Linked DNA regions of Homo sapiens: region 2 is linked to region 1. A link means that fine-mapping ties the variant in region 1 to the expression of a gene that starts in the linked region. Tissue or cell type: esophagus mucosa. Region 1 holds a variant in brackets; the other region holds the start of a gene. All regions are shown on one strand. Distances are between the middles of the regions.

Evidence for each region.
Region 2: GSDMC starts here. The variant in region 1 is fine-mapped to the expression of GSDMC in esophagus mucosa (GTEx, PIP above 0.99).

The regions. Positions count from the first base shown.
Region 1 is chr8:129,732,232-129,748,385 of GRCh38, reverse strand. GSDMC (gasdermin C) reads left to right here. Exons shown (of 14, transcript NM_031415.3): 14 at 1-190. Among named protein-coding and RNA genes, the nearest start is that of GSDMC, 46 kb to the left of the region's middle. The variant C/T (reference allele first, on the strand shown) is at 5,769.
Region 2 is chr8:129,779,222-129,795,375 of GRCh38, reverse strand. GSDMC (gasdermin C) reads left to right here and starts at 8,752. Exons shown (of 14, transcript NM_031415.3): 1 at 8,752-9,365.

The DNA.
Region 1 (16,154 bases):
AGAGACAGTAATGGGTAGAGACTTTAGGAAATGTTTTGGGGTGGTGGAATACTCTATATATTGACAAGAGTTTATATATTGACAAGAGTTTATATATTTGTCAAAACTCCTCAAATAGTATGTTAAAGACGTAAGCGTTTCACTATGTATAAATTTTACTTCAAAATAATAAAAACAAATACTGACTCTAGTTAATGGTGTGCATTTTGAATTGTTTTGGGTGAAGTGTACCGATAACGGTAACTTACATTGAAATGCAACAAAAAGTAAGTTGACTTGATGATAGACAGATAAGTGACCAAGTAAATGTGATAAAGTATTAGTAATTGGGGAATATGGGTGAAGGATATAGAAGAGATTTTTTTTTTCCTGGAAACATTTTGTGAGTCCGAAATTGTTTCACATTAAATGTTAGCCCCCACGTGTGTGTGTGTGTGTATGTGCATATTCCTCAATTATTAATATTTTGTCACATTTTCTTGGTCATGTATCTGTCTCATTCTGTGCTCTCTGTGTCATTTGCTAATGCCACCTCGCCTCCTAAGCTGAAACCTGGGAGTCCACCTTGACTCCTCTCCTTAATCCCCAATCAACACAGTCCAGCCGACTCACCATAGCCCTCCTCTTCTCACCTGGACAGCTGGTCTCGTGCTCCCAGCTGGTTGTCCTGCCACCATCTTGTTCTCTTCAAATTTTCCTTGAATCCTGGAGGCTCATATCACAGCAGGCATGGGGAATAATTTAAAAATGCAACCTTTGTATGTCACTCCTCTGCCTAAAATCCTTTAGATGCTCCCTGTCATCTAGAATTATCAACCAAGATTTTAAATATGACGTCTCATCAGAATCACCTTGGCTGACATTTTCACATGACAATAATGAAGTGACTAATCACCACTTCACTCTAGTGTATTCCAGTAATCCCTATTGCTCACATCATGTCTTCACTTTTAAACAGTGTTTACTTTTTTTCTGCTAAAAAAGGCAAGAAAATGAGTTCTTCTCCCATCTTGCTCTTCTATCATCTCCTATCTCCAATTATTTTATTATTTGTAAATTGCCAAGGAGTGTAACCGTATCCCTCATGGCTGTTTAGTGTTAATTCTTTATCAAATTTTTTTTTTTTTTTGAGACAGAGTCTTGCTCTGTCACTCAGGCTGGAATGCAGTGGCACGATCTCGGCTCACTGCAACCTCCACCTCCCAGGTTCAAGTGATTCTTGTGCCTCATCTTCCTGAATAGCTGGGATTGCAGGCATGTACCACCACACTCGGCTAATTTTTGTATTTTTTTTTTTTTGTACAGACAGGGTTTCACCATGTTGGCCGGGATGGTCTTGAACTCCTGGCCTCAAGTGATCTGCCTGCTTCGGCCTCCCAAAGTGCTGGGATTACAAGTGTGAGCCACCGTTCCCAGTCTGTTTAAATTTATTCATTGGTAAGTATCAGTCATTTTGTTTTATTCCTTGAATGGCTGTGATCAAATAATTTTTTCAGTAGTGCTTCACTCCCCAAGTCCCTTCATATTTGAGAAACTTTGCCTCTTGCCTTTGTTCTTGAAGAATTCCTTGGAGAGAGATTATATTTTTAGGTAGCAGGTAACACCTTCTTGCCCTCAGTCTTTTGTAGCCATGCAAAGGTCTCCCGTTGACTTATTGATGCTTTGAAGAAGAACAAGGCTAGTCAAATTTTCCCAAACTCTTTGCATATACATCTAAATGTATGCCTGAAGAATTCTTTCTTCATCCTTGAAGTTAAGCACTTTAACCAGGCAATACCTGTGTCTCAGTCACTCTATGTCACTTTTCCTGGGAGCTACAGATTCATTTTTTCCTTTCAGGAAAATTTCCTCTTATAATAATTAAATATCTTTTATATTCTATTTGTTAGGTTCCCTACCTCACAGATACCAATTGTCCTTTAGGATTCTCCATACATTATCTTGTCTAATTCTTGCATCTTTGATTTTTTTTCGTCTGCATTCTCTGAGATCACGGCAGCTCTTTCCTCTATGTCTATAACTCAACTCTCAACTATAATTACTTTCCAATTCATCAGTTCAGATATTGTGTTGTGACCTTCAGTTCTTTTCCTTAGCTTTACAGTCTCTCTTTTCACATATTTCTGTTGTTGTATCTTTGCAGCTTTGAGGTTTTTACCTTATTAAAGTATTTCTCTTAGATTCTTCCATGGCATAAAACTGTTCTTTTTCTTGAGCTATGTTTTCTACCTGAATTGATTCCTCCACTCTCTTCTTTTCCTGTAGTGTGCTTGTATGGAATCTCTGTCACTTCCCACCTTCTCCCCTACCCCGCACCATGCTCATCCTCAGCATGGGCAGCTCTGTCCAAATTATATTTGCACAAAGACAATAGGGTAAATGAGTTTTTCTCAACTCTTTTATCAATTAAATGAGATGGTTTCTGTTCCTCTGCAAACTATGGATTGAAACCTGTGTTTTCCAGTGCTTAAGGTCATGGCATGTAGAACGGCAGGAGGGCTCACCTGGGGGTCTGGGCAGTCTTGGATGATTGCCCCGGCCTCTCTTTCACCTTCTACGATTTTAAACATTCTCTGTGGTGAATTATACACTATGAACTACTCACTCCTTCTTCAAATTTCCTCCTTTTGTGGCTGCAGAGAAGTAGTGCTCTTGTTTTCCCTATCACCTATTTCTTTTTATTCACTAAACATTATTTACTGAAGGCCTAGTATGTTCCAGTCATTATTCTATGCACCTGGAGTTCCACTTCCCATTGATTTTATATTTCAGTGGAAAAAAAGAGAAAATAAATAAATGTATTATATAGTATATTAGAAAGTAACAAGTGTCATTATTTATCCAAGTAGAGATATTAAGGTTGTAGCATATAATTCGGGAAGATGCCTGAGTTGAAGACAATCATTTGAGCACAGACACTATAGATGTATTAAAGTCATGAGGCTGGATAAGACCACTTAGGAAGCAGTGAAAAATCACTATGAGAGAGTAAGAAGTTCCAGAGACGAATCCCTAGGGAACCCTACTGTTTAGAGGTTGAGTGAAGAGGAGAGAACATCAAAGAAGATGAGGAAGACTGAATGTAAAGTAAGGAGAAAACTAGGAGAGAATGTGACACTTGGAAGCCATATGAAAAAGGTTTCAAAAACTTCATTAAGTGTGATATAAACAGTGCTAATAGATCAAATGGTGCTAATAGATTGAGAGGAGAACTGAGGACTGACTATTGAATTTTGCTACATTGAGGTCATTGATAACTTTGACAAAAGCAATTTTCATGGGCTTGTAGTAAGAAAACTTGATTGGAATTGATTTAAGAGGGAGTGGGAAGAAATCCGTGAGAGACAGTCAGGGTAGGCAACCCATTATCCCTTATAGGCTATGTTTATACTTATTCATCCTTAAACAGTGGACCTCTCTAGGTCTCATCTATTCTCTTTATACATTTGTGGCAGAGAAACGAGTGTCTACACAAAATATTGACTTCCAATATCCATTTTCCACTGCTACCAGTATGATAGCATTGTTAAATGAGCACATGGTCATTCAGAAGAAATAGTATGTTTTCTAGTTTCCTATACAGCTAGGTTGGCCATATGACAAGGGGGATGTAAGCAGCAGTTTTCTGAGTTAATATCCAGAAACCATTCTTAAAGACGGTTAGTGTGTGCCTTCCTTGTCTCTTACTAGTCCCTTTATTCATTTGTCTGCTGGAATACAGATGGGAGGGCAGAGCATTGAGTTGGAGGAAGACTAAGTTCCTGAGGACTTTGTGAAACACAGCTGCGCTGTCAGCCCTACACTGCCTACTTTTTACTTCTGCATGAATGAAAATCAATTTCTTGTTGAAATTACCATTATGTTGGATCTGCATTACTTCTCTCTCAACCCAATTCTAACTGTTATACATTTCCTGGGCAATATTGTTCACAGTTACTATTTCATTTGCTGTCTATTTTTCAAATAATTACCTAACCTCCATCTCTAGAGCAGACATCAACCTTCAGATATATTTCTTAAAATATTGAGTAGGCTTTCACTTTTAGCTTGATTAAATAGCTTTTAGTGAATCTGCTCTCTTTCTGCAAATAAATAAAAACCTCACCAAAATATACTAAACAACTGTTTTCAGATATTGTGTAATAGGAAGCACAGGCAAACAAACAGGAGTCCTAAGATTGCCCCAGGTTTCTGCCTGGAGCACATTCTGAACCACAGTTCAGAAAGAGAAACCTGTATAAGGTGGAGTGGTCTCTCTGAGTTAACAACACAGAGATAGGAGGTTGAGGAGGCCAAAGGAACTAACATTTTTAGGGCAGAGTTCTAGGAAAGAGGGAGTATTATCCAGTAACTTACATAGGGTACCTTGAGCCTTGGTCTAAATACTTAACTTGTGCATGTATAGCATAAGGCTTCAAAATAGTAGATTTAAAAGCTATCAGCTAGCTGTAGCCTGCAAAATTTCTAGAGCTTGACTGGTTCTGGCAGATATTTGGGTTTCAACCAGCTACCATGGACAGAACTCATTGAACACTCAGGACATTCATTAGAAGTCCCAGAAGGATCATGTCTTAGTAGAAGGGATAAGATGTAGAGTGGAGGCTGTATAAACCCCATTTTAACAGAGTATAAAAACAAGCCTCAAAAGAATCAAGTGGATCTGCATATAACTAGTTGCCAGCTAAAGCAAAATTTAACACTTCTTAAAGGAATACAACAAAATCCAGACACATTCAATAATGCAACATTCACAATTCCAGTATTACTACACATGGGAAGAGGCAGGTAAATGTGATCTATAACATATCAATTAGTTAATAAACAGAATACAGAAATGACAGATGGGATGACGATGGTGGGTTAGCTGATAAGGACTTTAAAACAGCTTATTATAAATATGCTCAAGTGTTTAAAAGAAAACAGAAGCCTATTGAGGAAAGAAAAGAATAAATTGAAAATAACGAAATGGAATGTCTAGAGCTAAAAAATATCATGTGTGAAATAAAAATACACTGTACAGGCTTGTTAGTAGAATAGGTAATGCAGATGGAATGATAAATGAAATTTAAGATATAGTAATAGAAGCTAAACTGAAGCACAAAAAACAAAAAGTGCAAAGACCTTCAAGGACCTGTGATACGATATAACACATGTAATTGGAGCCCCATAACTAAAGTGAGCAAAAACAATACTTAAAAGAAATACGTGCTGAAAATTTAATGAAAATGTAATAAAAACCAAACTCCACAGACCCAAATGGCTTGGTGAACTCTGAACAGGATAAGCACACAAGAACACTATCCCAAGATGTACAATAATCACATTCCTGAAAACCAATGATAAAGGGATAACTTTAAAAGCAGGCACAGAAAGACCCAATGCATTCAGAGAAAGAAAGGTTACAATTATTGATGATTATAATGCAAATCCATGATAAAAAGCAAAGCAAAATAAAGGAAAACTATCAATCTAGAATTGACAATAATTTTCAGCAAAATAACTTTCAAAAATGAAAGTAAACTTTTGATTCTGGCCAACATGGAGTAGCAGAGACTGGATTTTTCCTTCTGCTGGAAACAACTAAAAAACCCACAAAATATATGAAATAATGGTTTTCAAGTAATTGGACAGCAGTTAAAAAGGACAGTGAGCCTTGAGAAATGGAAGAAAACCAAGGTGAGCCCTCTGATTGCCCCAGATTACTGTCTTGAGAGAGTTTCCAGCATGGCACAGGAAGGAGGAACCCAAGAACAGCCTAAGAACCTCCT[C/T]GAGTTGAATGGATGAAGGTGAGAGTCTGGGGAAGCCAAGGCAGCTAGAGTTTTCAGGACAGAGTACAGAGAAGAAAGAGTTGTACAGAGAGAAAACCCTAGAGACCTGTAGAATGACCCTGGTTGGATGGCTTGCAATTGTGTGTTGACTAAGTGAGATATCATTAGATTATTGAACAGATTTTTTGTTTCTAAAATGAATATTACTTTAAGTTGATAAATCATAATTGTATATTTTTATGGGGCAAAATGTGATATTTTGATATATGTATACAATAGGGGATGATTCCATCAAGCACATTAATATATCTATCACTTCACTTTCTCATCATTTTTTGTGATGGGGCATTTGCAATTTACTCTCAGCGATTAACTATGGTCACCCTGTTGTACAATAGATCTCAAAAACTTATTCCTTCTGTTTAATTGAAACTTTGTACTCTTTGACCAACATCTCTTCAATAACCCCCATCTTAGTCCCGCCCTAGTATCTGGTAACCTCCGTCCTACTCTCTATTTCTATGAGTTTAACTTAAAAATTTTTCATATAAGTGAGATTATGCAGTATTTTTCCTTTTGTGCCTGGCTTATTTCACTTAGCATTATGTCCTCCACATTCATCTGTGTTGTCACAAATGAAAGCATATCCTTCTTTTTTAAGGCTGAATATTATTTCATGTATATATATATATATATATATATTACATTTTCTTTATTCACTCATCTGTTTATGAACACTTAGATTGGTTTCATCTATTGTAAATAATACATCAATGAATATGGGAGTGCAGATATTTCTCTAACTTATTGATTTCACTTCTTGTGGATATATAACTAGAAGTGGGATTGTTGAATCATATGGTAGTTCTGTTGCTTTTAGTTTTTTGAGGGACCTCCATACTGTCTTCTAACATGGCTGTATTAATTTACATTCCCAGCAACAGCCTACAAGACTTTCCTTTTTTTCACATCCTCACCAACACTTATCTTTCATTTATCTGCTAATAGCCATTCTAACAGGTGTGAGGGGATAGCTCATTGTAATTTTAATTTGCATTTTCCTGATGATTAGAATATTTCCCTGATGATTGAGCATTGATGACAACAATTAAAGAAGACACAAATAAATTAGAAAAATCCCATGTTCATGGACTGGAAGAACTGATGCTGTTAAAATATCCCTACTACCCAAAGTGATCTACAGATTCAATGCAATTCTTATCAAAATTCTAATATCATTTTCACAGAAATAGAAAAAAACCCCCAAATTCATATACAACCAGAAAAGACTGTGAATAGCCAAACAATTTTGAGTTAAAATAACAAAACTGGAGGCATCACAGTTTCTGATTTTAAAAATATATTATAAAGATATTATAATCAAAACAACATGGTACTGGCATTACAACAGACAAATTGGCCAATGGAACAGGATAAAAAGCCCAGAAATAAACCGAAGTATTTAGGGTCAATTGATTTTCAACAAAAGTGCCAAGAATGCGTAATGGGGAAAGAACAATCTCTTCAATAAATGGTATTGGGAAAACTGGATATCCACATTCAGAAGAATAAAATTGGACCTTTATACTCACACCATAAAAAAAAATCAATTCAAAACGGATAAAAGACTTAAACGTAAGACTTGAAACGGCAAGGCTACCAGAAGAAAACATAGGGAAAAGCTCCATGACACTGGTCTGGGCAATGATTTATTGGGTAGAACTCCGAAAGCACGGGCAACAATAGCAAAATTAGACAAATGGATTCCATTAAGTTAAAAAGCTTCTGTGCAGTAAAGGAAGAAATTAACAGAGTGAAGAGACAACCTATGGATTAGGAGAAAATATTTGCAATCCATACATCTGCTAGGGAGCTAATATCCAAAATATATAGTCGTGTATAAATCAGTTGCTTAATGATGGAGCTACATTCTAATAAATGCATCATTAGGTGGTTTCAGTTGTGGGAACACCATAAAGTGTACTTACACAAACGTAGACAATATAGTCTACTGCACACCTAAGCTATATGGTATGGCCTATTGCTCAAAGGCTATAAACCTGTACAGCATGTTAATGTACTGAATACTATAGACAGCTGTAACATAATTATAAGAATTTGTGTAACTAAACAAATCTGAAGTAGTAAAGGTACAGTAAAAATAAAGTATAAAAATTAAAAATGGTACACCTGTATAAAGCCCTTACCATGAACGGAACTTGCAGAAATAGCTTACTATGAACTGAAAGTTGCTCTGAGTGAGTCAGTGAGTGAGCGGTGAGTGAATGAGAGGGCCTAGGATTGCTATACACTACAGTAGACTTTATAAATACTATACACTTAGGCTACACTAAACTTACAAAAAATATTTTTCTTTCTTCAACAATGAACTTAGCTTACTGTGACTTTTTACTTTATAAACTTTTTATTTTTTTGCAAACCTTTTGACTCTTTTATAATATTTAGCTTAAAACCCAAACATTCTAAAGCTGTACATAACATTTTCTTATATCCTTATTCTATAAGCTTTTTTCTATGTAAAATTTCTTTTTCTTTATTTTTTAGTTTGTAAACTTTTTGTTAAAAATGAAGACACAAACACACACACATTAGCCCAGTCCTACGTAGGGTTAGGATAAGCAATATCACTTTCTTCCACCTCCACACCTGGTCCCACTGGAAGGTCTTCAGGGACAATAACATGCATGGAGGTGTCATCTCCTAGGATAACAAGGCTTTCTTCTGGAATGCATCCTGAAGGACATGCCTGAGTCTGTTTTATATTAAATTAAAAAAATATGACAAATGAATACATTCTAAAATAACAATCTATAGTAAACACATAAGCCAGTAATGCAGTCATTTATGATTATTAGCAAGTATTCTGTATTATAGATAACTGTGTGTGCTATACTTTTATATGGCTGGCTGTGAAGTAGGTTTGTTGACAGCAGCATCACCACATACATGTGAAGAATGAGTTCTGCCAGGATATTAGGACAGCTACAACGTCAGCAGGCGATAGGATTTTTCAGCTCCATTATAATCTTATGGGACCACCGTCATACGTGTGGCCTGTCATTGTCAGAAATGTCTTTATATGATGCATGACCATATAAGGAACTCAAACAACTCAATAGCAAGAAAACAAATAATCTGATTTAAAAATGGGCAAGGGATCCAAACAGACATTTCTCAAAAGGAGAGATACAAATGAACTTTTCTGCATTTTTTTCTACTCAAAATGCTCTAATAATTTCCCCTCTAGTTCAAAGTAAAAAGCAGAATCCTAATAGTGCACAGGATTTGCCCTTGCTTGCTTCTGTCCCCATCGCTTCATAATTTTTCCTTAGCTGCTCCCTCCAGCCACATGGCATACTTGCTGTCCCTTAAGCCCTCAGGCACAGTCCCATCTCAGGGCATTCTCACCTGTTGTTCCTTCTGCCTGGAATGACCTGCCTTGAACGTGCACATGGCTTGCCACCCACTTCCTTCAGGTCTTCAGCAAACCGACATCAAACATGTATACCTATGTAACAAACCCCAGAACTTAAAGTATAATAAAAAAAAATAAAAACTCTTTTTTCTTTACTTTTATCTGACTGGATTAGTTCAAAAACTGGTCTTCAAGCTCTAGCTCAGACTTTTTCTTCTTCTTGGTCCAGTCTATTGATAAAGGTTTCAGTTTTATTTTGAAATGCCTTAAGTGAGTTTTTCAAATCTAGAAACTCTGACTGATTTCTTTTTAAGATGTTTATCTCTTCCTTCATTTCCTAGATTGCTTTAGAAGTATTTTTTTTCTTTTTTTTAAAAACTATACTTTAAGTTCTAGGGTACAAGTGCACAACGTGCAGGTTTGTTACATAGGTATACATAAGCCATGTTGGTGTGCTGCACCCGTTAACTCGTCATTTACATTAGGTACTTCTCCTAATGCTATCCCTCCCCCTGCTCCCCACCCCACGAGAGGCCCCAGTGTGTGATGTTCCCCACCCTGTGTCCAAGTGTTCTCATTGTTCAATTCCCACCTATGAGTGAGAACATGCGGTGTTTGGTTTTCTGTCCTTGTGATAGTTTGCTGAGAATGATGGTTTCCAGCTTCATCCATGTCCTTGCAAAGGACATGAACTCAACCTTTTTTATGGCTGCATAGTATTCCATGTTGTATATGTACCACATTTTCTTAATCCAGTCTATCATTGATGAACATTTGGGTTGGCTCCAAGTCTTTGCTATTGTGAATAGTGCCACAATAAACATATGTGTGCATGTGTCTTTATAGCATGATTTATAATCCTTTGGGTATATACCCAGTAATGGGATCAATGGGTCAAATGGGTCTAGATCCTTGAGGAATCGCCACACTGTCTTCCACAATGGTTGAACTAGTTTACAGTCCCACCAACAATGTAAAAGTGTTCCTATTTCTCCACATCCTCTCCAGCATCTATTGTTTCCTGACTTTTTAATGATCACCATTCTAACTGGTGTGAGATGGTATCTCATTGTGGTTTTGATTTGCATTTCTCTTATGGCCAGTGATGATGAGCATTTTTTCACATGTCTGTCTGTTGGCTGCATAAATGTCTTCTTTTGAGAAGTTTCTGTTCATATCCTTTGCCCACTTTTTGATGGGGTTGTTTGTTTTTTTCTTGTAAATTTGTTTAAGTTGTTTGTAGATTCTGGATATTAGCCCTTTGTCAGACGAGTAGATTGCAAAAACTTTCTCCCATTCTGTAGGTTGCCTGTTCACTCTGATGGTAGCTTCTTTTGCTGTGCAGAAGCTCTTTGGTTTAATTAGATCCTATTTGTCTATTTTGGCTTTTGTTGCCATTGCTTTTGGTGTTTTAGTCATGAAGTTCTTGCCCATGCCTATGTCCTGAATGGTGTTGCCTAGGTTTTCTTCTAGAGTTTTTATGGTTTTAGGTCTTACATTTAAGTCTTTAATCCATCTTGAATTAATGTTTGTATAAGGTGGAAGGAAGGGATCCAGTTTCAGTTTTTACATATGACTAGCCAGTTTTCCACATATGACTAGCCAGTTTTCCCAGCACCATTTATTAAATAGAGAATTCTTTCCCCATTTCTTGTTTTTGTCAGGTTTGTCAAAGATCAGAAGGTTGTAGATGTGTGGTATTGTTTCTGAGGGCTCTTTTCTGTTCCATTGGTCTACATCTCTGTTTTGGTAACAGTACCATGCTGTTTTGGTTACTGTAGCCTTGTAGTATAGTTTGAAGTCAGGTAGCGTGATGCTTCCAGCTTTGTTCTTTTGGCTTAGGATTGTCTTGGCAATGCAGGCTCTTTTTTGGTTCCATATGAACTTTAAAGTAGTTTTTTCCAATTCTGTGAAGAAAGTCATTGGTAGCTTGATGGGGATGGCATTGAATCTATAAATTACCTTGGGCAGTATGGCCATTTTCACGCTATTGATTCTTCCTACCCATGAGCATGGAATGTTCTTCCATTTGTTTGTGTCCTCTTTTATTTCATTGAGCAGTGGTTTGTAGTTCTCCTTGAAGAGGTCCTTCACATCCCTTGTAAGTTGGATTCCTAGGTATTTTACTCTCTTTGTAGCAATTGTGAATGGGAGTTCATTCATGATTTGGCTCTTTGTTTGTCTGTTATTGGTGTATAAGAATGCTTGTGATTTTTGCACATTGATTTGATATCCTGAGACTTTGCTGAAGTTGCTTATCAGCTTAAGGAGATTTTGGGCTAAGATGATGGGGTTTTCTAAATATACAATCATGTGATCTGCAAACAGGGACAATTTGACTTCCTCTTTTCTTAATTGAATACCCTTCATTTCTTTCTCTTGCCTGATTGCCCTGGCCAGAACTTCCAACACTATGTTGAATAGGAGTGGTGAGAGAGGGCATCCCTGTCTTGTGCCAGTTTTCAAAAGGAATGCTTCCAGTTTTTGCCCATTCAGTATGATATTGGCTGTGGGTTTGTCATAAATAGCTCTTATTATTTTGAGATAACGTCCCATCAATACCTAATTTATTGAGAGTTTTTAGCATGATGGGCTGTTGAATTTTGTCGAAGGCCTTTTCTGCATCTATTGAGATAATCATGTGTTGTTTGTCGATGGTTCCGTTTATGTGATGGATTACGTTTATTGATTTGCATATGTTGAACCAGCCTTGCATCCCAAGGATGAAGCTGAGTTGATCGTGGTGGATAGCTTTTTGATGTGCTGCTGGATTTGGTTTGCCAGTATTTTATTGAGGATTTTCACGTCGATGTTCATCAGGGATATTGGTCTAAAATTCTCTTTTTTTGTTGCATCTGTGCCAGGCTTTGGTATCAGAACGATGCTGGCCTCATAAAATGAGTTAGGATTCCCTGTTTTTCTATTGATTGGAATAGTTTCAGAAGGAATGGTACCAGCTCCTCTCTGTACCTCTGGTAGAATTCGGCTGTGAATCCATCTGGTCCTGGACTTTTTTTGGTTGGTAGGCTATTAATTATTGCCTCAATTTCAGAGCCTGTTATTGATCTATTCAAAAATTCAATTTCTTCCGGAGCATGTGTGTGTCCAGGAATTTATCCATTTCTTCTAGATTTTCTAGTTTATTTGAGTAGAGGTGTTTATAGTATTCTCTGATGGTAGTTTGTATTCCTGTGGGATTGTTGGTGATATCCCCTTTATCATTTTTTATTGTGTCTATTTGATTCTTCTCTCTTTTCTACTTTATTAGTCTTGCTAGCGGTCTATCAGTTTTGTTGACCTTTTCAAAAAACAAGTTCCTGGATTCATTGATTTTTTGAGGGTTTTTTGTGTCTCTATCTCCTTTAGTTCTGCTCTGATCTTAGTTATTTCTTACCTTCTGCTAGCTTTTGAATTTGTTTGGCCTTGCTTCTCTAGTTCTTTTAATTGTGATGTTAGGGTGTCAATTTTAGATCTTGCCTGCTTTCTCTTGTGGGCATTTAGTGCTATAAATTTCCCTGTACACACTGCTTTAAATGTGTCCCAGAGATTCTGGTACATTGTGTTTTTTTTCTCATTGGTTTCAAAGAACATCTTTATTTCTGCCTTCATTTTGTTGTTTACCCAGTAGTCATTCAGGAGCAGGTTGTTCAGTTTCCATGTAGTTGTGTGGTTTTAAGTGAGTTTCTTAATCCTGAGTTCTAATTTGATTGCACTGTGGTCTGAAAGACAGTTTGTTGTGATTTCTGTTCTTTTACATTTGCTGAGGAGTGCTTTACTTCCAACTATGTGGTCAATTTTGGAATAAGTGCGATGTGGTGCTGAGAAGAATGTCTATTCTGTTGATTTGGGGTGGAGAGTTCTGTAGATGTCTATTAGGTCCACTTGGTGCAGAGCTGAGTTCAAGTCCTGGATATCCTTGTTAATCTTATGTCTCGTTGATCTGTCTAATATTAACAGTGGGGTGTTAAAGTCTCCCATTATTATTGTGTGGGAATCTAAGTCTCTTTGTAGGTCACTCAGGACTTGCTTTATGAATCTGGGTGCTCCTGTATTGGGTGCATATATATTTAGGATAGTTAGCTCTTCTTGTTGAATTGATCCCTTTACTGTTATGTAATGGCCTTCTTTGTCTCTTCTGATCTTTGTTGGTTTAAAGTCTGTTTTATCAGAGACTAGGATTGCAACCCCTGCTTTTTTTTGCTTTCCATTTGCTTGGTAGATCTTCCTCCATCCCTCTATTTGAGCCTGTCTCTGCATGTGAGATGGGTGTCCTGAATACAGCACACTGATGGGTCTTGACTCTTTATCCAATTTGCCAGTCTGTGTCTTTTAATTGGAACATTTAGCCCATTTACATTTAAGGTTAATATTTTTATGTGTGAATTTGATCCTGTCATTATGATGTTAGCTGGTTATTTTGCTTGTTAGTTGATGCAGTTTCTTCCTAGCATCAATGGTCTTTACAATTTGGCTGTTTTTGCAGTGTCTGGTACCAGTTGTTCCTTTCCATGTTTAGTGCTCTTTTAGGGCAGGCCTGGTGATGACAAAATCTCTCAGCATTTGCTTGTCTGTAAAGGGTTTTATTTCTTCTTCACTTATGAAGCTTAGTTTGGCTGGATATGAAATTCTGGGTTGAAAATTCTTTTCTTTAGGAATGTTGGATATTGGCCCCCACTCTCATCTGGCTTGTGGAGTTTCTGCTGAGAGATCTGCTGTTAGTCTGTTGGACTTCCTTTTGTGGGTAACCTGACCTTTCTCTCTGGCTGCCCTTAACATTTTTTTCCTTCATTTCAATCTTGGTGAATCTGACAATTATGTGTCTTGGGGTTGCTCTTCTCGAGGAGTATCTTTGTGGTGTTCTCTGTATTTCCCGAATTTCAGTGTTGGCCTGCCTTGCTAGATTGGGGAAGTTCTCCTGGATAATATCCTGAAGAGTGTTTTCCAACTTGGTTCCATTCTCCCCATCACTTTCAGGTACACCAATCAAATGTAGATTTGGTCTTTTCACATAGTCCCATATTTCTTGGAGGCTTTGTTCATTTCTTTTTACTTTTTTTCTCTAAACTTCTCTTCTCACTTTATCTCATTAATTTGATCTTCAATCACTGATACACTTTCTTCCTCTTGATTGAATCGGCTGTTGAAGATTGTGCATGCATCACGTAGTTCTCATGCCATGGTTTTCAGCTCCATCAGGTCATTTAAGGTGTTCTCTACACTGTTTATTCTAGTTAGCCATTCATCTAATCTTTTTTCAAGGTTTTTAGCTTCCTTGTGATGGGTTTGAACATCCTCCTTTAGCTCAGAGAAGTTTGTTATTACTGACCTTGTGAAGTCTACTTCTGTCAGGTCATCAAAGTCATTCTCCATCCAGCTTTGTTTCATTGCTGGTCCTCACCAGCTGTCGTCCTTTGGAGGAGAAGAGGCGCTCTGGTTTTTAGAATTTTCAACTTTTCTGCTCTGGTTTCTCTCCATCTTTGTGGTTTTATCTACCTTTGGTTTTTGATGTTGGCAGCCTACAGATGGGGTTTTGGTGTGGATGTGCTTTTTGTTGATGTTGATGCTATTCTTTTCTGTTTGTTAGTTTTCCTTCTAATAGTCAGGTCCCTCAGCTGCAGGTCTGTTGGAGTTTGCTGGAGGTCCACTCCAGACCCTATTTGCCTGGGTATCACCAGCAGAGGCTGCAGAACAGCAAATATTGCTGCCTGATCCTTCCTCTGGAAGTTTCATCCCAGAGGGGCATCCGCCTGTATGAGGTGTTAGTTGGCCCCTACTGGGAAGTGTCTCCCAGTTAGGCTACATGGGGGTCAGGGACCCACTCGAGGAGGCAGTCTTTCCATTCTCAGAGCTCATGCACCATGCCGGGAGAACCACTGCTCTGTTAAGAGCTGTCAGACAGGGATGTTTAAGTCTGCAGAAGTTTCTGCTGCCTTTTGTTCAGCTATGCCCTGCCCCCAGAGGTGGAATCTACAGAGGCAACAGACCTTGCTGAACTGTGGTGGGCTCTGCCCACTTTGAGCTTCCCCAGCTGCTTTGTTTACCTACTCAAGCCTCAGCAATGGCGGACACCTCCCTCTCCTGCCAGGTTGCTGCCTCGCAGGTTGACCTCAGATTGCTGCGCTAGCAGTGAGCAAGGCTCCGTGGGTGTGGGACCTGCTGAGCCACATGCGGGATATAATCTCCTGGTGTGCTGTTTGCTAAGACCATTGGAAAAGCACAGTATTTGGGAGAGAGTGTCCTGATTTTCCAGGTACAGTCTGTCACGGCTTCCCTTGGCTAGGAAAGGGAAATCCCGTGACCCCTTGCACTTCCTGGATGAGGCAATGACCCACCCTGCTTCAGCTTGCCCTCTGTGGGCTGCACCCACTGTCCAACCAGTCCTATTGAGATGAACCAGGTACCTCAGTTGGAAATGCAGAAATCACCCGTCTTCTGCATCAATCACACTGGGAACTGCAGACCGGTGCTGTTCCTATTCGGCCATCTTGGAAGAGAATCCTTTAGAAGTTTCTTTGTGTTGATTTTCAACCTTGTCCTGGAGCTCATTGAGCTTCCTTGCAATCCATACTCTGAATTCTTTATCTGTCATTTCCGAGTTTCCATTTTGATTACAGACCATTGCTGTAGATCCAGTGTGATCATTTGGTGGTGTCACTACATTCAGATTTTTTGTGCTGGTTCCTTCTCATCTGGAGACCTTGGCACTTCTAATATTTGTAATTATTTTAGTGTGGGTAGGAGTTTTTCTTTTTATTTCCCTATAATAGTATTATTTTTTCTTTCCCTTTTCCCCCCTCCCTAGGGGGTGTAACTGTAGAGAATGCTGGGTAGGGTCTTTTGGCTTTCCTTCTATAGCCCTCTGCACTTCTTTCAGCAAGTTTTTTTTTTTTTTAATTTATAAAGAACAGAAATATATTTCTCACAGTTCTGGAGGATGGGAAATCTAAGAT
Region 2 (16,154 bases), 47 kb before region 1:
GAGTTTCTTTTTTTTCCCTTTTCTTTTCTTTTTTTTTTTTTTTTGAGACAGAGTCTCACTCTGTTGCCCAGATTGGAATGCAGTGGTGTGATCTTGGCTCACTGCAACTGCCACCTCCTGGGTTCAAGCGATTCTCCTGCCTCAGCCTCCCGAGTAGCTGGGATTACAGGCACGCACCATCATGCTTAGCTAATTTTTGTATTTTTAGTAGAGATGGGGTTTTGCCATGTTGGCCAGGCTGGTCTCAAGCTCTTGACCTCAGGTGATCCTCCTGCCTCAGCCTCCCAAAGTGCTGGGATTACAGGGGTGAGCCACGTACCTGGCCCAGCCAAGAGTTTTATATTCCATGAAACTAAGCTTCATAAATGAAGGAAAGATAGTCTTTTCCAGACAAACAAATGCTGAGAGAACTCACCACTACCAAGCCAGCACTATAAGAACAGCTAAAAGCAGCCCTAAATCTTGAAACAAATCCTCCAAATATACCGAAATAGAACCTCCTTAAAGCATAAATCTCATAGGACCTATAAAACAATAACACAATGAAGAAAAGAGGTATTCAGTCAAAAACTAGCATGAGGAATAGAACAGTACCTCACATCTCAATACTAACGTTGAATATAAATGGACTAAATGCTTCACTTAAAAACTACGGAATGGCAGATAGATAAGAATTCACCAACCAAATATCTGCTGTCTTCAACCTAACACATAAGGACTCACCTAACACATAAGGACTCACATAAACTCAAGGTAAAGGGGTGGAAAAAGATATTCCATGCAAATGAACAGCAAAAGCAAGCAGGAGTAGCTATTCTTATATCAGACAAAACAAACTTTAAAGCAATAGCAGTTAAAAAAGACAAAGAGGGACATTATATAATGATAAAAGAACTAGTCCAACAGGAAGTTATCACAGTCTTAAATATATATGCATCTAACACTGGAGCTTCCAAATATATAAAACAATTACCACTAGACCTAAGAAATGAGATAGACAGCAATACAATAATAGTGGGGGACTTCAATACTCCACTGACAGCACTAGACAGGTCATCAAGACAGAAAGTCAACAAAGAAACAATGGACTTAAACTATACCCTAGAACAAATGGACTTTACAGATATTTACAGAACATTTTAGCCAACACTGCAGAATATACATTCTATTCATCAACACATGGAACATTCTCCAAGATAGACCCTGTGATAGGCCACAAAACAAGTCTCAATACATTTAAGAAAAATCAAAATTATATCAAGTACTTGAGTACTTGCTCAGACCACAGGGGAATAAAATTGGAAATCCGCTCCAAAAGGAACCCTCAAAACCATGCAAATGCATGAAAATTAAATAATTCTAAACAAATTAATATAGAAGGGTGGGAGGGGGTGTGGAGCCAAAGAGTACACATTGGGTACAGTGTACACTGCTCAGGTGTCAAGAGACTCAACACATAAGGACTCACGTAAACTTAAGGTAAAGTGGTCAAAAAAGATATTCAATGTAAATGAACAGCAAAAGCAAGCAGAAGTAGCTATTCTTATATTAGACAAAACAAACTTTAAAGCAACAGCAGTTGCTTTTGGGTGCACCAAAATTTCAGAAATCACTACTAAATTTCAGAAACCACCACTAAAGAATTTATTCATGTAACCAAACACCACCTGTTCCCCAAAAACTATGGAAATAAAAAAAAAAACAAACTCAAAGGGATATCAGAGAACTTCCCAGATCTAGGAAGGGTAACAATATTCATGTACAAGAAAGTTATATAAAACTTAGCAGATTTAATCCAAAAAAGAGTACCTTAAGTCATCTCATAATCAAACTCCCAAAGGTCAAGTATAAAGAAAGCAAAGCTAAAGCAGCAAGAGAAAAGAAAAGAAAACAAAACAAAACAAAAAAACATACAATGGCGCTCCAATACATCTGGCAGCAGACTTTTCACTGGAAACCTTACGGGCCAGTAGAGAGTGACATGACATATTAAAAGTGCTGAAGGAAAAAACTTTCACCCTAGAATAGTATATCCAGCAAAAATATCCTTCAAGGATGAAGGAGAAATGAAAACTTTCCCAGACAAACAAAAGCTGAGGGATTTCATCAACACCAGACCTGTCCTACAAGAAAAATTAAAGAGAGTTCTTCAATCTAAAAGAAAAAGATGTTAATGAGCAAGAAGAAATTATCTGAAGGTACAAAACTCAATGGTAATATTAAGTACACATAAAAACACAGAATATTATAACTGTAATTGTGGTGTGTAAACTATTCATATCTTAAGTAGGAAAACAAAAGATGAACTGATTAAAAATTACTACAACTTTTCAAGATAGAGTACAATAGGACATAAACAGACACAAAAAAGTTAAAAAGTGGGGAGACAAAGTTAAAGTGTATAGTTTTTATTAGTTTTATTTTTGCTTGTTTATGCAATCAGTGTTGTCATCAGTTTAAAATAATGGGTTGTTAGATAGTATTTGGAAGCCTCAGGGTAACTTCAAATCTAAAAACATACAATGGATATTCAAAAAAAAAAAAAAAAAAGCAAGAAACTAAAACATACTACCAGAGAAAATCACCTTCACTAAAAATAAGAGAGGAAGGAAGGAAAGAAGGAACAGAATTTCACAAAACAAGCAGAAAACAAATAACAAAATGGCATGAGTAAGTCTTTATTTATCACTAATAACACTGAGTGTAAATGGTCTAAACTCCTCAGTGAGAAGATGTAGATTAGCTGAATGGATTAAAAAACCAAACAACAGCAACAAAAAGGCTGGGCATGGTGGCTTACACCTGTAATCCAAGCACTTTGGGAGGCTGAGGTGGGTGGATCACTTGAGGTCAGGAGTTTGAGGCTAGCCTGGCCAACATGGTGAAACCCTGTCTCTACTACAAATACAAAAATTAGCCGGGTGTGGTGGTGCAAGCCTGTAATCCCAGCTACTTGGGAGGCTGAGGTAGGAAAATCACTTGAACCCAGGAGGTGGAGGTTGCAGTGAGCTGAGATCACACCACTGCACTCCAGCCTGGGCAACAGAGTGAGACTCTGTCTCAAAACAACAACAACAACAACAACAACAACAACAACAACAACAACAACAAAAAACAAACAAAAAACCCCCAAAAAACAAAAAACCAAGCACCAATGATCTGTTGCCTTCAGGAAACACAATTCACCTATAAAGACACACCTAGAGGGAAAATAAAGGATGGAAAAAGATATACCATGTCAATGGAAACCAAAAAAGAGCAGGAATAGCTATCCTATATCAGACAAAATAGATTTCAAGACACATACTATATCAAGAGACAAATAAGGCCAGCATACAATGACAAAGGGGTCAGTTCACCAGGGAGATAAAACAATTCCAAATATATATGCACTCAACATGGGAGTACCCTGATATGTAAAGGAAATATTAGCAGCAAAGAGAGAGTTAGACCCTAGTACAATAACAGCTGGAGACTTCAACCCACGACTTTTAGTATTGGACAGATTTCCTAGACAGAAACCCAAGAAAGAAACATTGGACTTCATCTGCAATATAGAACAAATGAACCTAATAGGTATTTACAGAATACCTATCATTCAGTGGCTGCAGAATACACATTTTTCTCCTCATCAAATGGCTCATTCTCAAGAAAAGACCATATGTTAGGTCACAAAACAAGTTGTAAACCATTAAAAGAAGTTGAAATAATATGAAGTATCTTCTCTGACCACAATGGAATAGAACTAGAAATCCATAACAAGAAGAATTTTGGAAACTATACAAACCCATGGAAATTAAACAATGTGCTCCTGAATGACTAGTGAGTCAATAAAGAGATTAAGAAGGAAATTGAAAATTTTTTTGAAACGAATGATAATGGAAACACAATATACCCAAATCTATAGGATATGGTAAAAGAAGTAATAAGGGAAAAATGTATAGCTATAAGGGCCTACATCAAAAAAGAAGTGAAACTTTAGATAAACTACCTAATGATACATCTTAAAGAACTAGAAAAGCTAGAGTAAACCCAACCCAAAATTAGTAGAAGAAATGAAATATTAAAGATCAAATTGGAAAGAAATTATATTGAAAAGAAGAAAACAACACAAAAGATTAAAAAATGAAAAGTCTTTTTTTAAGAAGATAAAATTGACCCATTTCCTATTATTATAATTAATATTTTTTGAGATGGAGTCTTGCTCTGTTGCCCAGGCTGAAGTGCAGTGGTGTGATCTTGGCTCACTGCAACCTCTGCCTCCTAGGTTCAAGCAATTGTCCTACCTCAGCCTCCTGAGTAGCTGGGATTACAGGTACATGCTACCACACCTGGCTAATTTTTGTATTTTTAGTGGAGAGGGGGTTTCACCATGTTGGCCAGGCTGGTCTCAAACTCCTGACCTCAAGTGATCTGCCAGTCTTGGCCTCCCAAAGTGCTGGGACTACAGGTGTGAGCCACCACACCTGCCAAAATTGACCCATTTTTACCCAGACTAACTAAAAAAAGAGAGAGAAGACCCAAATAAATGAAATCGGAGATAAAAAATGAGACATTACAGCTGATACCACAGAAATTCAAAGGATCATTAGAGGCTACTATGAGCAACTATATGCCAATAAGTTGGAAAACCTAGAGGCAATTGATACATTCCTAGACACATACAACCTAGCAAGATTGAACCAGGAAGAAACCCAAAACTTGAGTAGGCCAATAATAAGTAATGTGATCAAAGCTATAATAAAAAGTCTCTCAGCAACAAAAGCCCAGGACCCATCAACTTCCCTCCTGATTTTTTTTTCAAATTAATATTAATTCTTTCAAACTATTTCAAAAAATAGAGGAGGTGGGAATATGTCGAAACCTATTCTATGAGGCCAGTAATACCCTGATACCAAAATCAGACAAAGATTCATCAAAAAAAAAAAAAAAAACTACAAGCCAACAGCTTTGATGAATATTGATGGAAACATCAACAAAACATGAGCAAACTGAATTCAATAACACCTTAAAAAGATCATTCATCAAGACCAAGTGGGATTTATCCTAGGGATGTAAGGATGGTTCAACGTACACAAATCAATCAATGTGATACATCATATCAATAGAATAAAGGACAAAAACCACATAATCATTTCAATTGGTATTGAAAAACCATTTGAATAAATAAGTTCAATATCCCTTCATGATAAAAATTCTAAAAAACTGGATGTAGAAGAAATGTACTTCAACACAATAAAAGCCATATACTACAGACTCATACCTAGTATTATACTGAATGGGGAAAAACTGAAAGCCTTTTCTCTAAGATCAAGAACACAAGAAGGATGTACACTTTTACCACTGTTATTCAACATACTACTGGAACTCCTAGCTAGAGCAATTAGACAAGAGAAAAAAGTAAAGGGCAACCAAATTGGAAAGGAAAAGTCAAATTATCCTTGTTTGTGGATGATGTGGTCTTATATATGGAAAAACCTAAAGATTCCAACATAAAACACTATTAGAAGTGATAAATAAATTAAAGTTGCCAGATAAAAAATCAACATCCAAAAATCAGTAGCACTTCTATATGCCAACAGAGAAGAATCTGAAAAAGAAATCAAGAAAGTAATCCCATTTACAAGAGCTACAAATGAAATTAAATTCTTAGGAATTAATTTAACTGAAGAAGTGAAAAATCTCTTCAATGAAAACTATAAAACATTGATGAAAGAAACTGAAGAGGACACAAAAAATGGAAAGATATTCCATGTTCATAGATTGGAAGAATCAATATTGTTAAAATGTCTATACTACCCAAAGCAATCTTCAGATTCTATACAATCTCTATCAAACTACCAATGACATCCTTCACAGAAAGAGAAAAATCAATCCTAAAATTTATATGGAAACACAAAAGGCCCAGAATAACCAAAACTATCCTGAACAAAAAGAACACAACTCAAGGAATCACATTACTTGACTTCAAATTATACTACAGAGCTATAGTAACCAAAAGAGCATGGTATAGTCATAAAAACAGACACATAGACCAATGAAAAAAGAATAGAGAACCCAGAAACAAATCCATACACCTACAGTGAACTCATTTTTTACAAAGGTGCCAAGACTATACATTGGGGAAAAGACAGTCTCTTCAATAAATGGTGTTGCAAAAACTAGATATCCACACGTAGAAGACTGAAACTAGACCCTTATCTCTCACTATATACAAGAACTAAATTAAAATAGATTAAATAATTGAATCTAAGGACTCAAATTATGAAACTACTACAATAAAACATTGGGGAAACTCTCCAGGACATTGGAATGGGCAAACATTTCTTGAGTAATACCCCACAAGCACAGGCAGCCAAAACAAAAATGGACAAATGCAACCATATCAAAGTAAAAAGCTTCCTTCCAGCAAAGAACAATCAACAACAGAAGAAGAAAACCCAAAGAATGGGAGAAAATATTTGCAAACTAAGCATCTGACAAAGGATTTGTAAGCAGAACACACAAGGAGCTCAAACAATTATACAGGAAAAAATCTAATAAACTAATTAAAATATGGGCAAAAGTTCTAAATAGACATTTCTTGAAAGACGACATACAAATGGCAAACACGCATATGAAAATGTGCTCGACATTATTGATCATCAGAGAAACACCATTCAAAACTACAATGAGATATCATCTCACATCTGTTAAAATGGATTTTACCCAAAAGACAGGCAATAACAGGCTGGAGAGGATGTGGAGAAAAGGGGACCCTTGGACACTGTTTGTGGGAATGTAAATTAGTACAACTACTATGGAGAACAGTTTGGGCCTTCCTCAGAAAAACTGAAAATAGAACTATCGTATGATCCAGCAAACCCACTGTTAAGTATATACCTCCAAAATAGGAAATCAATATATTGAAGAGATATCTGCACTCCCATGTTTATTGCAGTTCCACTCACAATAGCCAAGATTTAGAAGCAATCCAAGTGTCCATCAACAAATGAATGAATAAAAAAAATGGTACGTATACATAATGGAGTACTATTCAGCCATAAAAAGAATGAGATCCTGTCATTTGCAACAACATAGATGGAACTGGAGGTCATTATGTTAAGTGAAATAAGCCAAGCACAGAAAGACAAACTTTACATGTTCTCTCTTATTTGTGAAAGCTAAAAATTAAAACAACTGAACTTACGGAGATAGAGAATAGAATGATGGTTACCAGACGCTAGGAAGGGTAGTGGGGTGGGTGTGCAGGGGTAGGGGGAATGGTTAATGAGTACAAAAAGATTTAGAAGGAATAAGATCTAATGTCTGATAGCACAATATATTATTGACTATAGTCAATAATAATTTAATTGTACATTTAAAAATAACTAAAAGAGTATAATATTTTAACACAAAAAATAAATATCTGAGATGATAGATACCTCATTTACCCTGGTGTGATTATTATACATTGTATGCCTGTATTAAAATATCCCATATATCCCATAAATAAATATATACATCTATGTACCCATAAAAATTAAAGACAAAACAAAACTAAAAACTACAGCTTTGCACAAAGGCTATTGCAACCTTAAACAAAAAATACTTCTGCCAGGACATCTGTCCACCAACTGCCTGTCTAACCTTGGACTGGTGCCACCTTTGTTACTGATCCTTGTAAGCAAAGAATTGATTCAAAACAATTGTGTAATCCTTCTTATTTTTCTTTTTAAAACTTTTTTCTTCCCTTACCTGTCTGAATACACACATAGTTTGTGATGGCACGCATATTCCCATTGCAATGCTCATTCTTGAATAAATATCACTGTCTTTTAGAGAGCTTTTCTTTATCTGTTATTTAGGTTGGTGTGACTCACATAACTGTTCCCAAACAGCTAAGTTACTTTTCTCCGACTTCTGGAATACCCAATAGCAGGTTGGGGCCTATAGAATGTTGGTACACAGAAGGGTTATGTATGTAATTATAATTTTATATTTCAAGTCTATAGTTTTTACAATGGAAATTATAGAACGTGAAAGTTAATTTGGAACATCGTGTCTGGTGGTGATATGCAGAAAGCACAGTCTGAGCTTTGTCCCAAGTGAAGTGCATATCAGGTTCTTACAGTGGAAAGGGAAGGCATAAGACTTTTATGAATATTAAAAGAAAACAAAAGTAAAGTAAATGCATTGTGAAATACTGTCAGCTGAAAGGAATGTTGCTGTATTGAGTGTCAGTTCCAGGAAGTTACTCAAAACTTAAAGGTGTAGCAATCCTGTTTATACAGTTTCTGCTCCTATAGGCACTTTACTTCATCTTGAAACCCATAGGGAGTAATTGGAAAGGACATGGGTTTCAGGCAAGTTTTTAATTCCTTTCACAAATCCCCTTTTTATTTATATTTAAAATAAAGATTGTTGTAAGATTGGATTTAGATAATACATGCATGGTGCTTAACACAGAGGAGGCATTAAGCACAGTAATTCCTGTTGTACAGAGCCCCACATGTAGGCAGTTCAGAGGTGCTTCCCAGGGCCCTGGCGCTAGTGCCTGTCCCTCCTGCTGAAGTTGCCTTTCCTGGTGTCCAGTGATTGAATTCTAAATTCAGCACATATACCAGAGGAATACGAGCCAAAGAAGTTGTTCCAGCTAGAGTTGCTGGGAATCCATGAATCAAAGACTTGCTCAGCTAGTTCTGTATGTGAAAGGAAATGGGTGTGACTCTGAGGAAGCCTTTTTAATTCTGATTCAGGAGATACATAATTAGATGCCACTTGATTTTGTTCCACAGACTTTTTGCTGAGGACTTGAGAGCTAAGGTTCTGTGATCCAGAACTAGTTCCAGACTTACTCTTCTGGAAATGAACAGGGCCCTCCTGTGCTTATTTTTCCAGGATACTGCATTGGAAATTGAGTCAGGGACCCATTGGTGAGAAGAGAACAGTGAACAGAATCACATTGATCTGGTCCTGGAGTTTGTCTGACAATTTCTACTTGACCGCAGGAGGTCTGAAGATTGGAAGGGGCCCTACTCAATTGTGCTATTTTTCTCTCTTTTTTTTTTTTTTGAGACGGAGTTGCCCAGGCTGGAGTGCAGCGGCATGGTCTCAGCTCACTGCAACCTCTGCCTCCCGGGTTCAAGCAGTTCTCTGCCTCAGCCTCCCAAGTAGCTGGGATTACAGGTGCCTGCCACCATTCCTGGCTAATTTTTGTATTTTCAGTAGAGACAGGGTTTCACCATCTTGGCCTGGCTGATCTTGAACTCCTGACCTCGTGATCCACCGGCCTCAGCCTCCCAAAGTGCTGGGATTACAGACGTGAGCCACCGTGCCCGGCCAATCCTGCTATTTCTCTACAGGACAAAGGGATATATAATCTGGTAAGTCCTAATGGGATCAGGGGATGAAAAAGAAAAGATTACTATCATCAGCGACAAAAATGTTCTGGATGGGTTTGTGAAATGAGTCGAAGAGTTTTTTTTCCTACAGAATTTGACTGAAAAGGAAGTTAAGTTCGTCTTAATAATGGAGAATTCCTGATAGCATGTAAGGCTAAGGAATATATCTTCGATACATTATTGCACAGGTCCAGTCTTAAAGAAGCATCTTATATTCTCATTATTCTCTGCTTGTCCAGTGACCTCTTACATGGCCCATATCAGAGAATTGAAATGGTCACATCAGGAATTTTACATGAACTGTTGAAAATTCTGTCTCTCTTCATTATTGAACATATTTAGAAAGTTCAAAAACTGAATTCCATGTAGTTAGGAAGTCCTATTCCTATTTGTTATAATTGTAACAATACAATTATACTCTTAATTGTAACAATACAATTATACTGTTTTAGTTATTTCTAACTGTACAATTATTGACTATAGTCACCCTGTTGTGCTATCGAATACTAGATCTTATTCAGAAATACTAGATCTTATTCAGTCTAACTATTTTTTTTGTGCTCATTTACCATCCCCACCTCCCTCCCACCCCCTAATATCTTTCCCAGCCTCTGGTAACCATCATTTTACTCTATCTCCATAACTTCAATTGTCTTAATTTTTAGCTTTCATAAATAAGTGAGAACATTGTAAAGTTTGTCTTTCTGTGCCTGGCTTATTTCACTTAATGACCTCTAGTCCCCTCTATGTTGTTGCGAATGACAGGATCTCATTTTTTTTTGACACGGAGTTTTGCTCTTGTTGCCCAGGCTGGAGTGCAACAGTGCAATCTCGACTCACTGCAACCTCCGCCTCCTGGGTTCAAGTGATTCTCCTGCCTCAGCCTCCCAAGTAGCTGGGATTACAGTCATGCGCTACCATGCCTGGCTAATTTTGTATTTTTAGTAGAGCGGGGTTTCTCCATGTTGGTCAGGCTGGTCTTGAACTCCTGACCTCAGTTGATCCACCCGCCTCAGCCTCCCAAAGTGCTGGGATTACAGGCATGAGCCACCGCACCCAGCCAATCTCATTCTTTTTTATGGCTGAGTAGTACTCTGTTATGTATATGTACCACATTTTGTTTACCTGTTCATTTGTTGATGGACACTTGCATTGCTTCCCAATCTTGGCTATTGTGAACAGTGCTGCAACAAACATGGGAGTGAAGATATCTCTTCAATATACTGGTTTTCTTTCTTTTGGGTGTACACCCAGCAGAGAGGTTGCTGGGTTGTATGGCAGCTCTATTTTTAGCTTTTTGAGGAAGGTCCAAACTGTTCTCCATAGTGGCTGTACTAATTTACATTCCCACAAACAGGGTACAAGTTTCCCTTTTCTCTACCTTCTCTCCAGCATTTTTTATTACTTGTCTTTTAGATATAAGCCATTTTAACAGGGGTGAGATGATATCTCATTGTAGTTTTGATTTACATTTTTCTGATAACTAATAATGTTGAGGACCTTTTCATATGCCTTTTTTTCATTTGTATGTATTCCTCTGAGAAATGTTTATTCAACTCTTTTGCCCATATTTTAATCTGATTATTAGATTTTTTTCCTATAGAGTTGTGTGGGCTCCTTATATTTTCTGGTTATTATTCCCTTATCAGATGGGAAGTTTGCAAATATTTTCTCCCATTCTGTGGGTTCTCTTTTTCTGTTGTTGATCTTTTCCTTTGCTGGAGGGAAGCTTTGTAACTTGATGAGATCCAATTTGTCTATTTTTGCTTTGGTTGCCTGTGCTGGTGGTGTATTACTTAAGAAATTTTTGCCTAGACCAATGTCCTGGAGAGTTTCCCCAGTGTTTTCCTGTAGTAGTTTCACAGTTTGAGGCTTTACATTGAAGTCTATAATCTATTTTGATTTTATTTTTGTACATGATGAGAGAGAGTGGTCTAGTTTCAGTCTCCTGCATATGAATATCCAGGTTTCCCAGCACCATTTATTGAAGAGACTGTCCTTTCTCTAATGTATGTTCTTGGCACCTTGGTAAAAAATGAGCTCACTGTAGGTATATGGATTTGTTTCTGGGTTCTCGATTTTTTTCCTTTGGTCTGTGTGTCTGTTTTCATGCCAGTACCATGCTGTTTTGGTTACTGTAGCTCTGTAGTATAATTTGATGTCAGATAATATGATTCCTTGAGTTTTGCTCTTTTTGCTCAGGATAGATTTTGTTATTCTGGGTCTTTTGTGTTTCCATATAAATTTTAGGATTGTTTTTTCTCTTTCTGTGAAGAATGTCATTGATATTTTGATATAATTTGCATAGAATCTGAAGATTGCTTTGGATAGTATGGACATTTTAACAATATTGATTCTTCCAATCTATGAACATGGAATATCTTTCCATTTTTTGTGTCCTCTTCAGTTTCTTTCATCAATGTTTTATAGTTTTCATTGAAGAGATTTTTTACTTCTTCAGTTAAATTAATTCCTAAGAATTTAATTTTATTTGTAGCTCTTGTAAATGGAATTACTTTCTTGATTTCTTTTTCAGATTCTTCTCTGTTGGCATATAGAAGTGCTACTGATTTTTGGATGTTGATTTTGTATCCTGCAACTTTAATAAATTTATAACTTCTAATAGTTTTTTGTTGTTGGAATCTTCAGTTTGTTCCATATATAAGACCACATCATCCACAAACAAGGACAATTTGACTTCTTCCTTTCCAATTTGGATGCCCTTTATGTTTTTCTCTTTTCCCCCATTGAGTGAGTCTGTAATATATGGCTTTTTATTATGTTGAGTTATCTTCCTTCTATACCCAGTTTTTTGAGGGGTTTTATCATCAAGGGATATTGAGTTTTATCAAGTGCTTTTTCAGCATTAATGGAAATGATCACGTGGTTTTTGTCTTTCATTTTCTTGCTATAATGTATCACATTGATTGATTTGTGCGTGTTGTACCATCCTTGCATCCCTGGGATAAATCCCACTTGGTCATGATAAATGATATTTTTAATGTATTGTTGAATTTGGTTTCCTAGTATTTTGTCGAGGATGTTTCCATCAATATTCATCAGAAATATTGGCTTGTAGTTTTTTTTTTTTAAGTTTCTTTGTCTTGTTTTTTATTAGGGTAATATTGGCCTCATAGAATGAGTTTGGAAGTATCCCCTCTTTGTCTATTTTTAAACATAGTTTGAATAGGATTGGTATTAGTTCTTCTTTAAATGTTTGGTAGAATTCAGCATTGAATTCACTGGGTCCCAGGCTTTTATTTACTGGGAGACTTTTTATTACAGCCTTGATCTCATTACTTGTTATTGATCTGTACAGGTTTTGGATTTCTTCAAGGTTCAATCTTGGTAGGTTGTATGTTTCTGGGAATTTATCCATTTCCTCTAGATTTTCCAATTTATTGGTGTATAGTTGCTCATAGTAGCTGCCAATAATCCTTTGAATTCCTGCAATATCAGTTGTAATGTTTTCTTTTTCATCTGTGATTTTATTTATTTGGGCCTTCTCTCTTTTTTCTTAGTCTGGCTAAAGATTTGTCTATTTTGTTTATCTTTTCAACAAAGCAACTTTCATTTCATTCATCTTTTGTATTGTTTTCTTAATTTTAACTTCATTTATTTCTGCTCTGATCATTATTGTTTATTATTTTCTACTAATTTTGGGTTTGGGCTGCTCTTGGTTTTCTAGTTCTTTAAAATGCATCATTAGGTTATTTATTTGAAGTTTTTCTTCTGTTTTGATGTAGACACTTATAGCTATAAATTTCCCTCTTTGTACTGCTTTTGCTGTATCCCATGGGTTTTGGTATGTTTGCATTATCATTTGTGTCAAGAAATGTTTCAATTTCCTCATCAATTTCTTCATTGACCCATTGGTCATTCAGGAGCATATTGTTTAATTTCCATGTGTTTGTATAATTTCTAAAATTGCTCTCGTTATTGATTTATAGTTTTATTCCATTTTGTTCAGAGAAGATACGTTATATTATTTCAACTTTTTGAGTGTTTTAAGACTGGTTCTGTGACCTAAAATATGGTCTACGCTTGAGAATGATCCATGTGATGAGGAGAAAAATGTGTATTCTGCATCCATTGGATAAAATGTTCTGTAAATACCTATTAGGTTCATTTGTTCTATAGTACAGACTGAGTCCAAAGTTTCCTTGTTGATTTTCTGTCTGGGAGATCTGTCCAATGCTGAAAGTGAGATGTTGAAGTCTCTAGCTATTTTTTTTTTTTTTTTGAGATGGAGTCTCGCTCTGTCACCCAGGCTGGAGTGCAGTGGCGCGATCTCCGCTCGGCCCACTGCAAGCTCCACCTCCTGGGTTCACGCCATTCTCCTGCCTCAGCCTCCTGAGTAACTGGGACTACAGGTGCCCACCACCACGCCTGGCTAATTTTTTTGTGTTTTTAATAGAGACAGGGTTTCACCGTGTTAGCCAGGACGGTCTCGATCTCCTGACCTCGTGATCTGCCCGTCTCGGCCTCCAAAAATGCTGGGATTACAGGCGTGAGCCATCGCGTCTCGCCTGAAGTCTCTAGCTATTATTGCATTGGGGTCTATCTCTTTAGCTCTAATCTGAATCTAAATCTATTTTGTCTGATACAAGTATAGCTATTCCTGCTCTTTTTTGGTTTTCATTGACACGAATATATTTTCCATTCCTGTGTTTTTATTCCATGTTTATCTTTATAGGAGAAGTGTGTTTCTTGTAGGTAACAGATCATTGGGTCTTGTTTTTTTAATTAATTCAACCACTCTATGTCTTTAGATTGGACAGTTTAGTTCATTTACATTTAATGTTATTACTAATAAGTGAGTACTTTTGGTATTTTATTTTTTGTTTTCTGGTTGTTTTGTGATCTTCTGTTTCTTCTTTTTCTTCTTCCTTTTAGTGAAGGTAATCTTCACTGATGGTATATTTCAATTTCTTGCTTTTCATTTTTTGCTTATTCATTGTATGTTTTTAGATTTGAAATTACTATGAGGCTTGCAAATGCTATCTTAAAACTCATTATTTTAAATAGATGACAACAGTGATTGCATAAACAAACAAACACAAACAGAAAACTAATAAAAACTCTACATTCTAACTTTGTCTTCTGCTTTTTATCTGTTTGTTGTTTGTCTTTATGTCCTGTGGTACTATGTCTTGAAAGTTGTAGTTGCTTTTGATTGGTTTATCGTTTGGCCTTTCTACTTAAGGTAAGAGTAGTTTACACACCACAATTACAGTGTTATAATATTCTGTGTTTTTCTGTGTGCTTCCTACTACCATTGAGTTTTGTACCTTCAGATGATTTCTTCTTGCTCATTAACATCATTTTCTTTCAGATAGAACAACTCCCTTTAGTATTTCTCGTAAGACAGGTTTGGTGTTGATGAAATCTCTCAGTTTTTGTTTGGGAAGGTCTTTATTTCTCCTTCATCCTTGAAGCATATTTTTTTTGCCAGATATATTATTCTAGGGTAAAAGTTTTTTTCCCTTCAGCACATTAAATATGTCATGCCACTGTCTCTTGGCCTGTAAGGTTTCCAGTGAAAAGTCTGCTACTAGACGTATTGGAATTTTATTGTTTGTTATTTTTTCTTTTCTTTTGCCACTTTAGGATTCTTACTTTATACTTGATATTTGGGAGTTTGATTATCAAATGCCTGAGGTAGTCTTCTTTGGCTTAAATCTGCTGGGTGTTCTATTATCTTCTTGTACCTTGTACTTGAATATTGGTATCTTACTCTAGCTTTGGGAAGTTCTCCCTTTGCATAAACTTTCTACACCTATCTGTTTCTCAATCTTCTCTTTAAGGCCAGTAACTCCTAGATTTGCCCTTTTGAGGCTATTTTCTATTGCCCTTTTGAGGCTATTTTCTACATCTTGTAGCATGCTTCATTCTTTTTTCTTTTGTCTCCTTTGACTGTATATTTTCAAATAGCCTGCTTTCAAGATCACTGATTCTTCCTTCTGTTTGATCAATTCTGTTATTAAGAGATGCTGATGCATTCTTCTGTAGGTCAATGTATTTTTCAACTCCAGAATTTCTGCTTCTTTTTAATTATTTCAATTTCCTTAAAAAATTTATCTGATAGAATTCTGAGTTCCTTTTATGTGTTATCTTGAATTCCTTTGAGTGTCCTCAAAACAGCTATTTTGAATTCTTTGTTTGAATGATTACATATTTCTGTCTCTCTGGGATTGGTCCCTGGTGCCTTACTTAGTCCATTTGGTAAGGTGATGTTTTCCTGAATCGTCTGTTTTTAAATTCAAAATTACATTTTATTACAGAATTTAAAAATAATTTTCCTTATAGGCTTCCTGGACTGGTGACTTACATTTTCTTTCTTTTTTTTAATTATATATATATTTTCTTTTTTATACTTTTATTTTAAGTTCAGGGGTACATGTGTAGGTTTGTTATGTAGGTAAACTTGTGCCATGGGAGTTTGTTGCATAAATTATTTTATCACCCAGTTATTAAGCCTAGTAACCATTCGTTATTTTTCCTGATCATCTCCCTCCTCCCACCCTCCATGCTCTACCTTCCAGTAGGCCCCAGTGTGTGTTGGTCCCCTCCATGAGTCTATGTGTTCTCATCATTTAGCTCCCACTTATAAGTGAAAACATGTGGTATTTGGTTTTCTATTTCTGTGTTAGTTTACTAAGTGTAATGGCTGCCAGCTCCATTGGGAGCTGTTCTTGATCTTGTTCTTTTTTTGGCTACATAGTATTCCATGAGGTATATGTACCGCGTTTTCTTTATCTAGTCCATAGT